Linked DNA regions of Homo sapiens. The protein of the gene in region 3 purifies or fractionates together with the protein of the main gene of each other region. This does not show direct contact. Each region holds a gene or a part of one and is shown on either strand. Other genes may lie near its edges.

Evidence for each region.
Region 1: the proteins of ABHD12 (region 3) and FSD2 purify together in Homo sapiens (co-immunoprecipitation; one large-scale study listed by IntAct). This does not show direct contact.
Region 2: the proteins of ABHD12 (region 3) and TBC1D9B purify together in Homo sapiens (affinity purification with mass spectrometry; one large-scale study listed by BioGRID and IntAct). This does not show direct contact.

The regions. Positions count from the first base shown.
Region 1 is NC_000015.10:82,796,045-82,799,697, reverse strand, and holds part of FSD2 (fibronectin type III and SPRY domain-containing protein 2), read left to right. Parts: intron 1-3,331; exon of another isoform or gene 3,332-3,448; intron 3,449-3,653.
Region 2 is NC_000005.10:179,894,351-179,898,003, reverse strand, and holds part of TBC1D9B (TBC1 domain family member 9B), read left to right. Parts: intron 1-3,389; coding exon 3,390-3,618; intron 3,619-3,653. UniProt on the Homo sapiens protein: May act as a GTPase-activating protein for Rab family protein(s).
Region 3 is NC_000020.11:25,384,200-25,387,852, forward strand, and holds part of ABHD12 (lysophosphatidylserine lipase ABHD12), read right to left. Parts: intron 1-3,653.

The DNA.
Region 1 (3,653 bases), on a different chromosome or scaffold from region 3:
CACCCCACTAACAGGCAGCATGCAGGGGCTGCCGTGGAGGTGACGTCACACCACATGGTGAGTTGGGGAAAGAGAGAGGCAATGAGCTCCATCTGGCAGTGCTGAGTTTGAGGGGGCTGCTGGAGGGGGCTGCTCAAGACAGCAGCTGCACCTCTGAGCCTCTGCCTCTGCATGGGGCACAGGTTAGAGCCAGAGACATGGATTTGGAGCCCTCAGAAAAGACGGGGACATAGAAGCTGTGAGACTGGATGAGATCACCTAGAGCAAGTGGAGAGTGGGAAGAGGGCCTAGAATGGAGGTTAAGGGGATGCCTGCATATAAAGAGCAGCCAAGGGGAGGAACTTGGCAGAGATTTCAGCAGTCAGTGGCCTAGGGGAAATCCCAGCTGAGCCGGGGGACACAGAAGGGTCAATAGGATTGAATGGCATGGAGCAGTCAGGAGAGCACCAGACAGGGTCCATGAATTTCCAAATTAGGCCATGAGAAAATGTTATATTAAAAGGGCAATCAAAAGTGGAGATAGGCCAGGCGCATTGGCTCACACCTGTAATCCCAACATTTTGGGAGACCAAGGCGGGAGGATTGCTTAAGCAGGAGTTTGAGACCAGCCTGGGCAACATAGTGAGACCGTGTCTCTACAAAAATTACAAAAATTAGCCAGGCGTGGTGGTGCATGCCTGTGATCCCATCTGCTCAGGAGGCTGAGGTGGGAGGATTGTTTGAGCCCAGAAGGTCAAGGCTGCAGTGAGCTGAGATTTCACCACTGTGCTCCAACCTGGGCAACAGAGCAAGACCCTGTCTCAAAAAAAAAAAAAAAAACAAAACAGTGGAGATAGTGGAAAGAAAACTTAATGCCTTTTTAAAAATATAGTTTGGGAAGTGGCTATTAAAAGGACAGTCTATCAGCAGAAGTGACAGTCTATCACTGCAGAAAGTTAAACAGAGCTGATAGGGGAAGCCGACGAACTTGTTGACTTCTGTTTTCTGTGTACAACTGTGGAACAAATAGGGAAGACAAACAGCTGGCTGCTAACTTTGATCACATAAATGGAAGTTAAGGAAAACTGGATCATAAAAGTGATGGATAAGGAAAAAACAGTGCTAAACCATATCTTAAAATATTTTGCTTATTTTTCTCAAAACATTATATATATATGTCATGTTAAAATAGTTTAATAATATTAGTTTTTTTAAAAAAAGACATTAGATTTACCACAATTTTTTAATGGGGGTAGGCATTAGGAACTGGATTGTGATGATGGCTGCACAATTTGGGGAATTTACTAAAAATCATTGAATTGTGCACTTAAAACATGAATTTTCTTCCTTTCGTTCTTTCTTCCTTTCTATCTTCTGACAGGGTCTTGCTCTGTCACCCAGGCTGGAGTGCAGTGGCAAGATAATAGCTCACTGCAGCCTCAATCTTCCAAGCTAAAGTGATCCTCCCACCTTAGCATCCCGAGTAGCTGGGACTGCAGGCACACACCACCACGCTGGGCTAGTTTTGTTTTTTGATTTTTAAATAGAGGTGAGGTTTCTTTTTGTTGCCCAGGCTGGTCTCGAACTCCTAAGCTCAAGTGGTCCTCCCACCTTTGCCTCCCAAAGTGCTTGGATAACGGGTGTCAGCCACTGTACCTGACCTGTAATATTTTTCTGTGCTTGGAAAGTCTTTTGTTGGTCATCTATGATACTTCTCTACAAAAATACAGATGTATAACTTGAGATGAAAGATTTTCTCTTGTTCTCCTGGGACCATACATCTCTGAATATTAAACTCTTTTTTTCTTTTGGATGAAGTTACCAATACAACTTTTAATCACATGTAAGCAAAATAACATAAACATATTACAAATTTTGGTAAATAATAATAATTATTATTGTTATTTTTGAGATGGAGTCTCGCTCTGTCGCCCAGGCTGGAGTGCAGTGGCGTGATCTTGGCTCACTGCAACCTCCGCCTCCCAGGTTCACGCCATTCTCCTGCCTCAGCCTCCCAAGTAGCTGGGACTACAGGCGCCCGCCACCACGCCCGGCTAATTTTTTGTATTTTTAGTAGAGATGGGGTTTCACCGTGTTAGCCAGGACGGTTTCGATCTCCTGACCTCATGATCTGCCCGCCTCGGCCTCCCAAAGTGTTGGGATTACAGGCGTGAGCCACCACGCCTGGCCAATAATTGTTAAATGAAAAATAAAATGGAAATGCATCTCTTAATGAGGTAGATGGAGCTTTTTTAAAAAAAGTTTATTTGTGTATCCATTGATGAAAATTACATATTTTAGACTGCAACAGGAATTAGGGTCAATTGTCTTTCCGCTTTTCATTTTGTTGATGTAAGAACAGAGCAACCTTGCTTAGCTACGTAATCAAACATTGATGGAAATGAAAGTGTTTTATTATAGCAATGTCACTCACATTTTTGAACTCTTTCTGAAATGTGTTTCAAAAAGTACATAGTGATCTATCATGAAAAATTATTTTTAATCATATATTAGCTGACAATTTGATTAGATCCTCCTTCAACTTTATTGAAAGCAAAGAACTGGAAACCACTTAGCTTGAAAACAAATTTTTTCTTATGCATTCATTAATGTCATTCACCCTCCACCATTGATAGCAATACTTCAAATTGTCCTTCCATTTAGTCCCCTGGAGGTGTTTTTTTTTTTTTTTTTTTTTAATTACCAAGCAATGAAATCTTACAGTGCAATGAAATATTCAGGATAAGTGAGAGGTATAGTTTTACTTTTGTAATAAAGAGAAAAAGGACTATTGTGAAAAAAGAATCTACATGAAGCCTCAAATGCTAGTTCCTTCCCAGGCAGAGCAGCTCTGGGAAAGATTAAATATAAAGTTGAGCATCTGGGAGCTGATCCTCCTGAAGCTATCTATACCATGTACCCCTTGGAAAGTCTTCGCATACAGATTCCATAGCCTGAAGAGTGATGGTGGAAATGCCACCCTTTGATGGAGTCTGGAGAGGGAAAGGGGAGAAAGAGAGAATAGCAGCTAGCAGAGAAAGCTGGGTGGAAAGTTTATTTTTAGTCTGGGACAATGAACTAGTCATCTATTGTGGCATAACAAATTATTTCAAAACTTGACAGCTTAAAACAACAAATATTTATTCTCTTGAATCGTTTCTGAGGGTCAAGAACCTGAGAACAGTTCGTCTGGGTGATTGTGGCTCAGAGTCTCTCATGAGGCCTGGTGACCACTTTCCGTTGGTTCTCCTAATACGTCTTATGCCCGCAGCAATGCTGCCAACTTCTTCAGCTCACCTGCCAGCCAACCTTGGTTCACCTGTGTTTCCATATGTTTTTCTTGCTTTTACAGCCACTGGGGACCAGCTCTGGCCAGGACAATTCCGTTTGCCATGATGTGGGTTGAAATCACAACTTCTCCCGGGCGCAGTGGCTCACGCCTCTAATCCCAGCACTTTGGGAGGCCAAGGTGGGTGGATCACAAAGTCAGGAGTTTGAGACCAGCCTGGACAACATGGTGAAACCCCGTCTCTACTAAAAAATACAAAAATTAGCTGGATGTGGTTGCGGATGCCTGTAATCCCAGCTACTTGGGAGGCTGAGTCAGGAGAATCACTTGAAACCAGAAGGCGGTGGTTGAGTGAGCAGAGATCGCGCCACTGCACTCCAGCCTG
Region 2 (3,653 bases), on a different chromosome or scaffold from region 3:
GTTATTGCCTTAAGTTAGATTCATGGGAGGGCTCTTACCAGGTCAAAGTCGTGTGGTGCAAAGTTGCTTTGGGCAGGCCCATGTGAATTCCTGATACCAGAACTTCCTAAGCCTGGACAGACATTACCAGCTTTCTCAGCTCTTCTCAGTGCACTTTGGGGTTCAAGGTGAGACCTGGTTACCTCTATCTCCAGGAAAACAGGTGGAGAGAGCAGAAGCAAGCCTTTACTCTGGTGAGCAATTGGGCGATGATAATAATAGTAGTTGTGACATTATTCACTGCCTCCTATATGCCAGGCCCAACAAACGCATCAGCAGAACAAACCAAATGACTCATAGGCCAAGGAAGAAATGGAAATTAGAAAATATTTAGAATTGAGGCCAGGTGTGGTGGCTCACACCTGTAATCCCAGCACTCTGGGAGGCCAAGACGGGCGGATCACTTGAGGTCAGGAGATCAAGGCCAGCCATCCTTTGCCAACATGGCAAAACCCTGTCTCTACTAAAAATATTTAAAAAGTAGCTGGGCGTGGTGGCATGGGCCTGTAGTCCCAGCTACTCGGAATGGAAGACTGAGGCAGGAGAATCACTTGGACTTAGGAGGCAGAGGTTGCAGTGAGCTGAGATCACACCACTGCACTCCAGCCTGGGCAACAGAGCGAGACTCCATCTCAAAAAAAAAAAAAAGAAAAGAAAATGATTGAAATACTACTGCATGTCAGGATGTGTGGGATGCAGTGAGAGCAATACACAGAAGGAAATTTAAAGCCTTCAGTCTTACAAAAGAAGGAAGGATGGGCCAGGCGCAGTGGCTTATGCCTGTAATCCCAGCACTTTTGGAGGCCGAGGCGGGCGGATCACGAGGTCAGGAGATCGAGACCATCCTGGCTAACACAGTGAAACCCCATCTCTACTAAAAATACAAAAAAATTAGCCGGGCATGGTGGCGGGGGCCTGTAGTCCCAGCTACTCGGGAGGCTGAGGCAGGAGAATGGCATGAACCTGGGAGGCGGAGGTTGCAGTGAGCCGAGATCATGCCACTGCCCTCCAGCCTGGGCAACAGAGCGAGACTCCGTCTCAAAATACGCTGTGAGGAGCATCTTTAAAAAAGCAAAACTCTAAAGAGAGAGGATGACAAAACAGCCTTAAACCAGTACCTTTAAGAATTTAGACAAAATGGGGCTGGGCGTGGTGTCTCACACCCGTAATCCTAGCACTTTGGGAGGCTAAGGCAGGTGGATCACTTGAGGCCAGGAGTTTAAGACCAGCCTGGCCAACATGGCAAAACCTTGTCTCTACTAAAAATATAAAAAATTAGCTGGGCATGGTGTCGCGCACCTGTAATCCCACCTATTTGGGAGGCTGAGGCACAAGAATTGCTTGAACCCGGGAGGCAGAGGTTGCAGTGAGCCAAGATTGCGCCACAGCATTCCAGCCTGGGCAATAGAGTGAGACCCTGTCTAAAAAAAAAAGAATTTAGACAAAATGGGCACTTTATTAGAATAACATTTATTAATTTCCAGTTGCTTCTGCAACAAATTACCATCAACTTAGTGGCTTAAAAGAACACCAGTTTGGCTAGGCGCGGTGGCTCACACCTGTAATCCCAGCACTTTGGAGAGAGATGTTTAGATCGCAGCTGCGGTAGCACTGGTATAAGAGAAGAAAAACCCTTTTCCTTCTCCCCATTTAGGTTCTTGGCTGGGGCTCTGTTACAAAAGGCAGATTAACAAGACAAAAACAGAAGTTTACTAATGTGTGTATCTCATATATTCATGGGAGAAACTTGGATAGGTGACTCAAAAGTTTAGTTGGAATTGGGTTTACACAGCCTCTTAACACAGGGACAGGCCACTTAAAGAACAATAACAGGACAGACGAAAACAGCTTATGCTTCCAAGGGCAGGAAACTGTGAGAAGATAAATACGTGGGATGAAACCGATGGAGTAAGGTTTGTTTGCAGATGCGTGCGGTGTCATCTCTGGGCTGATAGGAATCTAGAATTGTCTCCAATAAAGGAGAACGTATATCCAGCTTTTAGGCAGAAAGGGGGAGGGAGGGCAGAAAGAGCTTTTCCTGTGTTTGCTGCTACTTAATTGCCTTCAGCTCAAAATACTTCTTATGTCAAAAGGGCATATTTTGGGATGGCATATTGTAGTTTCCTTCCCTGGCTACTCAGAAATAGAAGAAATCAGAACAGATCCCACCTTTCAGTCCTCACCTAGGCTCATGGCTGTCCTCACTGCCCATGGACAGAGGGATCGGGGGTGGCCCAGCCACCAGCACTGACCTTGACTGACTAGTTTATCTTGTAATTGTCTTTCTAGAAAATCAATGTGTACATTTTGAGCTGAGGGCACTGCTGAGGACCTGTTTTACCCCAGGAGGCTTGGGGCTGGCTCTGTGGCCCAGGGGGATGTCTCTGGGCACCCTGAGCCCTGTAACAATGCCAGCAGCATGAGGGAGTATGGACGGGCCCTGAAACTGCAGGTCCTGCCGCTGGTTTGTGTGCAGGGCCAAGAGGCAGGAGCCCCCTGGCATACAGGGGGCCAAGTGCAGGACGTCCTCCAGGATGTGATAAGAGAAGCGCTTTACAGAACAGAGCTGCAGGGTGATCCCATTTGGGCAAATAAAGGGGGAAAGAGGAAAACATACATTTGCTTATGAATCCATTGGTGTTTGCATGTCTGGAAGGAACCAGGAAAGTCACTACAGAGAGCGAGAAAAGATTCCCTTTTCACTGAATACACATTTCTACTGTATGCATTTTTTACCATGTTTATGGATAATGTTTCAACAATTTTACATGAAAATAACTGAAATATTCATTTTAAAAGTGTCAGGCCAGACACAGTGGTTCACACCTGTAATCCCAGCACTTTGGGAGGCTGAGGCGGGCGGATCACTTGAGCCCAGGAGTTTGAGACCAGCCTGGGCAACATGGCAAAACCCCATTTCTACAAAAAGTACAAAATTAGCCAGGTGTGGTGGAGTACACCTATAGTCCCAACTACTTGGGAGGCTGAGGCAGGAGGATGGCTTCAGCTGTTGGGTTGAGGCTACAGTGAGCCGTGGTTGAGCCACTGCACTCCAGCTTGGGTGACAGAGTGAGACCCTGTCTTAATTTTTTTAAAAAGCCTCTGCTCACAACTGGTGATGACAGTAGTTACGGGAGTTGCAGGAACTTTGTCTAGAGAGTCACACAGGCAGCGTCTCTCATCCATGTGCCTTGACTGCAAGCCAGCAAGAGCCACTGACTGTTCCCAGCTGTGCCTGTAGCCCTTAGACCAAGGTCCATGAGTCCTGGGTTCCCTGGGCCTCTCTGCTCCACCCTTTGACCTGTCCGGGACTGTGCAGGGCAAGCCCTTGTCCTCTTGCCTTCCTCCAGGGAATCATCGCAGAAGAGAACAAGAACCTGCAGCCCCAGGGAGACGAGGACCCCGGGAAGTTCAAGGAGGCTGAGCTGAAGATGCGGAAGCAGTTTGGGATGCCTGAGGGCGAGAAGCTGGTGAATTACTACTCCTGCAGCTACTGGAAGGGCCGCGTGCCCCGGCAGGGCTGGCTGTACCTGACGGTCAACCACCTGTGCTTCTACTCCTTCCTGCTGGGGAAGGAAGGTGAGCCCGCCCCTCAGTGTGCCCCAGCCCCCACA
Region 3 (3,653 bases):
ATACCATGCAAAGCAAAACTGATCTAGTTCCTCGTCTCAAGGAGTACAGAGTTGACCTATGAATGAGATAAATATTTACCTTTAAAAATTATCTTTTGGCCCAGAATTTAAAAACAAAAAAAACTGGTTTGGGGTTTTTTTTTTAACCTCCAAAATTGTTCTCATCTGAGTTACTTACCAATGTTAAAAAAGTTGGCAATACTACACACACACACACAAGCACACACACTAAGACAAAAAAAAAACTATATAAACAAACAAAAGGCCGGGTGCACTGGCTCATGCCTGTAATCCCAGCACTTTGGGAGGCTTAGGCGGGTGGATCACTTGAGCTCAGGAGTTCAAGTCCAGCCTGGGCAACATGGCAAAACTCTGTCTCTACAAAAAATACAAAAATTAGCTAGGCATGGTGGTGGGTGCCTGTAGTCCCAGCTACTTGTAAGGCTGAGGTGCGAAGACCATTTGACCCTGAGAGGCAGAGGCTGCAGTGAGCCATGACTGCACTGCAGCACTCCAGTCCGGGTGTAGAGCCAAACCCGATCTCAAACACAAAACAAAACAAACTAAAAAAAACACCAGCTAGTCTTTTCCAGAAAGACTGGACAATCTGGCCACTCTGGGACCACATTCCTGCCAGGCAGCAACAGGACAGGGTGTGGTAGCTGCTGTCCCCTTCAGAAAGAACCTGTTCTCTCCACTTCTCAGCATCCCCCAGAACTAAAAAGAGATATTTTCTTTGATGGAGCACAAAACATGTGTGTGTGTGTATGTGTGTGTGTATATATATTTCCCCACTTCAGTGTATGTATGGATATTAGATATATTACTGACTAGCCTAAATCAGGAGGAAAAAGCAGGCCAGGCGCGGTGGCTCACGCCTGTAATCCCAACACTTTGGGAGGCCAAGGCGGGTGGAACATCTGAGGTTGGGAGTTTGAGACCAGCCTGACCAACATGGAGAAACCCTGTCTCTACTAAAAATACAAAATTAGCTGGGTGTGGTGGCACATACCTGTAATCCCAGCTACTCGGGAGGCGGAGGCAGGAAAATCGCTTGAAACTGGGAGGCGGAGGTTGCAATGAGCCAAGATCATGCCATTGCACTCCAACCTGGACAACAAGAGTGAGACTCAAAAAAAAAAAAAAAAAAAAAAAAGAGGAAAACGGAGGAAAAACCCTAATTACAAAAAACAGGGAAGAAAACTAGGGAAATGGCCATAGCTACAGAGGAGAAAAGGTGAATTAAATTGGTAATTTTATAAGAATACATAAACCACCAAAACTGAAACCAGGACATAGCAAATTCTAAACAGACGTAGAAGACACTGTAGTAGTTACCGAAGTGCTATATTCTGAAACAGCACTGGCTAGGGTGGTGGCTCATGCCTATAATCCCAATACTTTGGGGGACAGAGGTGGAAGGACTGCTTGAGAGAGAAGTTCAAGACCAGCCTAGGCAACGTGGCAAGACCTGCCTGTACCAAAAAATTTAAATAAATAAATAAATAAATAAATAGAAAGGCACCAGGCTTAGACAGTTTTACAAGAGAATTTCTACCAAATTTTAAACAAATAATTTAAAAAATTCTTAAGCTGGCTAAAAGTTTAGAATAAAATGGCCGGGTGCGGTGGCTGACACCTGTAATCCCAGCACTTTCGGAGTCCAAGGCAGGCGGATCACGAGGTCAGGAGATTGAGACCATCCTGGCTAACACGGTGAAACCCCGTCTCTACTAAAAAAAATACAAAAAATTAGCCAGGTGTGTTGGTGGGCACCTGTAGTCCCAGCTACTTGGGAGGCTGAGGCAGGAGAATGGCGTGAACCCGGGAGGCAAAGCTTGCAGTGAGCCAAGATCGCGCCACTGCACTCCAGCCTGGGTGATGCAGCGAGACTCCGTCTCAAAAAAATAATAATAATAATAATAAAAATAAAAGTTTAGAATAAAATGTTATGTAAGAAACTTTTTACAAAGCTATAGAAAACACTAAAACAACTTGATAAAGGTTGCATAAGAGAAAATTACAGACTATTCTCACAAATGATGTAAAATTTCTTTTTCTTTCTTTTTTTTTTTTTGAGATGGAGTCTTGCTCTGTCGCCCAGGCTGGAGTGCAGTGGTGCAATCTGGGCTCGCTGCAAGCTCCACCTCCCGGATTCATGCCATTCTCCTACCTCAGCCTCCTGAGTAGCTGGGACTACAGGCGCCCGCCACCACGCCTGGCTAATTTTTTTTGTATTTTTTAGTAGAGACGGGGTTTCACCCGTCAGCCAGGATGGTCTCGATCTCCTGACCTCGTGATCAGCCTGCCTCGGCCTCCCAAAGTGCTGGGATTACAGGCGTGAGCCACCGAGCCCGGCCTCATGATGTAAAATTTCAAAATAAAATATTAATAAATAGGCCAGGTGCGGTGGCTCACGCCTTATAATCCCAGCATTTTGGGAGGCTGAGGCAGGCAGATTATCTGAGGTCAGTAGGTCGAGTCCAGCCTGGTCAACATGGCAAAATCCCGTCTCCATTAAAAATACAAAAATTAGCCGGGCATGGTGGCAGGTGCCTGTAATCCCAGCTACCCGGGAGGCTGAGGCCAGAGAATTGCTTGAACCTGGGAGGCAGAAGTTGCAGTGACCCGAGATCGTGCCACTGCACTCCAGCCTGGGCAACAGAGTGAAACCCCGCCTCAAAAAATAAAAATAAAAAATAAATGAATAAATAGAATCTGGCTATACAATAAGAGAGTTTATCCCAGGAATACAATGATGATTCAATAATATAAATCCATTACTATAACTCATTATGTTAACAGATAAAAGAAGAAAATCTCTATGATCATTCCACAGATGTACACTGGCATTTGAGAAAACTCAATCACCATTTTTTATTTTAAAAACATCAGTGAGGGAGCAGGAACAAAAACAAAAAGCTCCCCACAACATTAGCAACACACCCCAGCATGGCACTTAAATGGCAAAAACACTAACAGCATTCTCATTAAAGTCAGGAATGAAACAAGTTACTCAGTGTCATCCCTATTATTTAACTTTGTTCTAGAAATACAATGCAATCAGAAAAGAAAAAGAGGTCAGACATGGTGGCTCACACCTGTAATCCCAACACTTTGGGAGGCCGTGACAGGGAGATCACTTGAAGTCACGAGTTGGAGACCAGTCTGGCCAACATGGTGAAACCCCATCTCTACAAAAAATACAAAAATTAGCCATGTGTGGTGGCACATGCCTGTAATCCCACCTTCTCGGGAGGCTGAGGCAGGAGAATTTAGGCCTGGCACGGTATTTCATACCTAACACTTTGGGAGGCCAGGAAGAAGGATCGCTTGAAGCCAGAAATTCAAGACCAGCCTGGGGGCAACATAGTGAGACTTCATCTCTATTAAAAAAAAAAAAAAAAAATTAACCAGGAGTGGTGGCATACACCCAGCATCGATATGGGAGGATCGCCTGAGCCCAGGAGGTCTGGGCTGCAGTGGGCCATGATCATGCCACTGTGCTCCAGCCTGGGTGACGGAACTTTCTTAAAAAAAAAATTGTTTAAAAATATTCCAGGCCGGGCGCTGTGGCTCACGCCTGTAATCCCAGCAATTTGGGAGGCCGAGGTGGGTGGATCACGAGGTCACGAGTTCGAGACCAGCCTGGC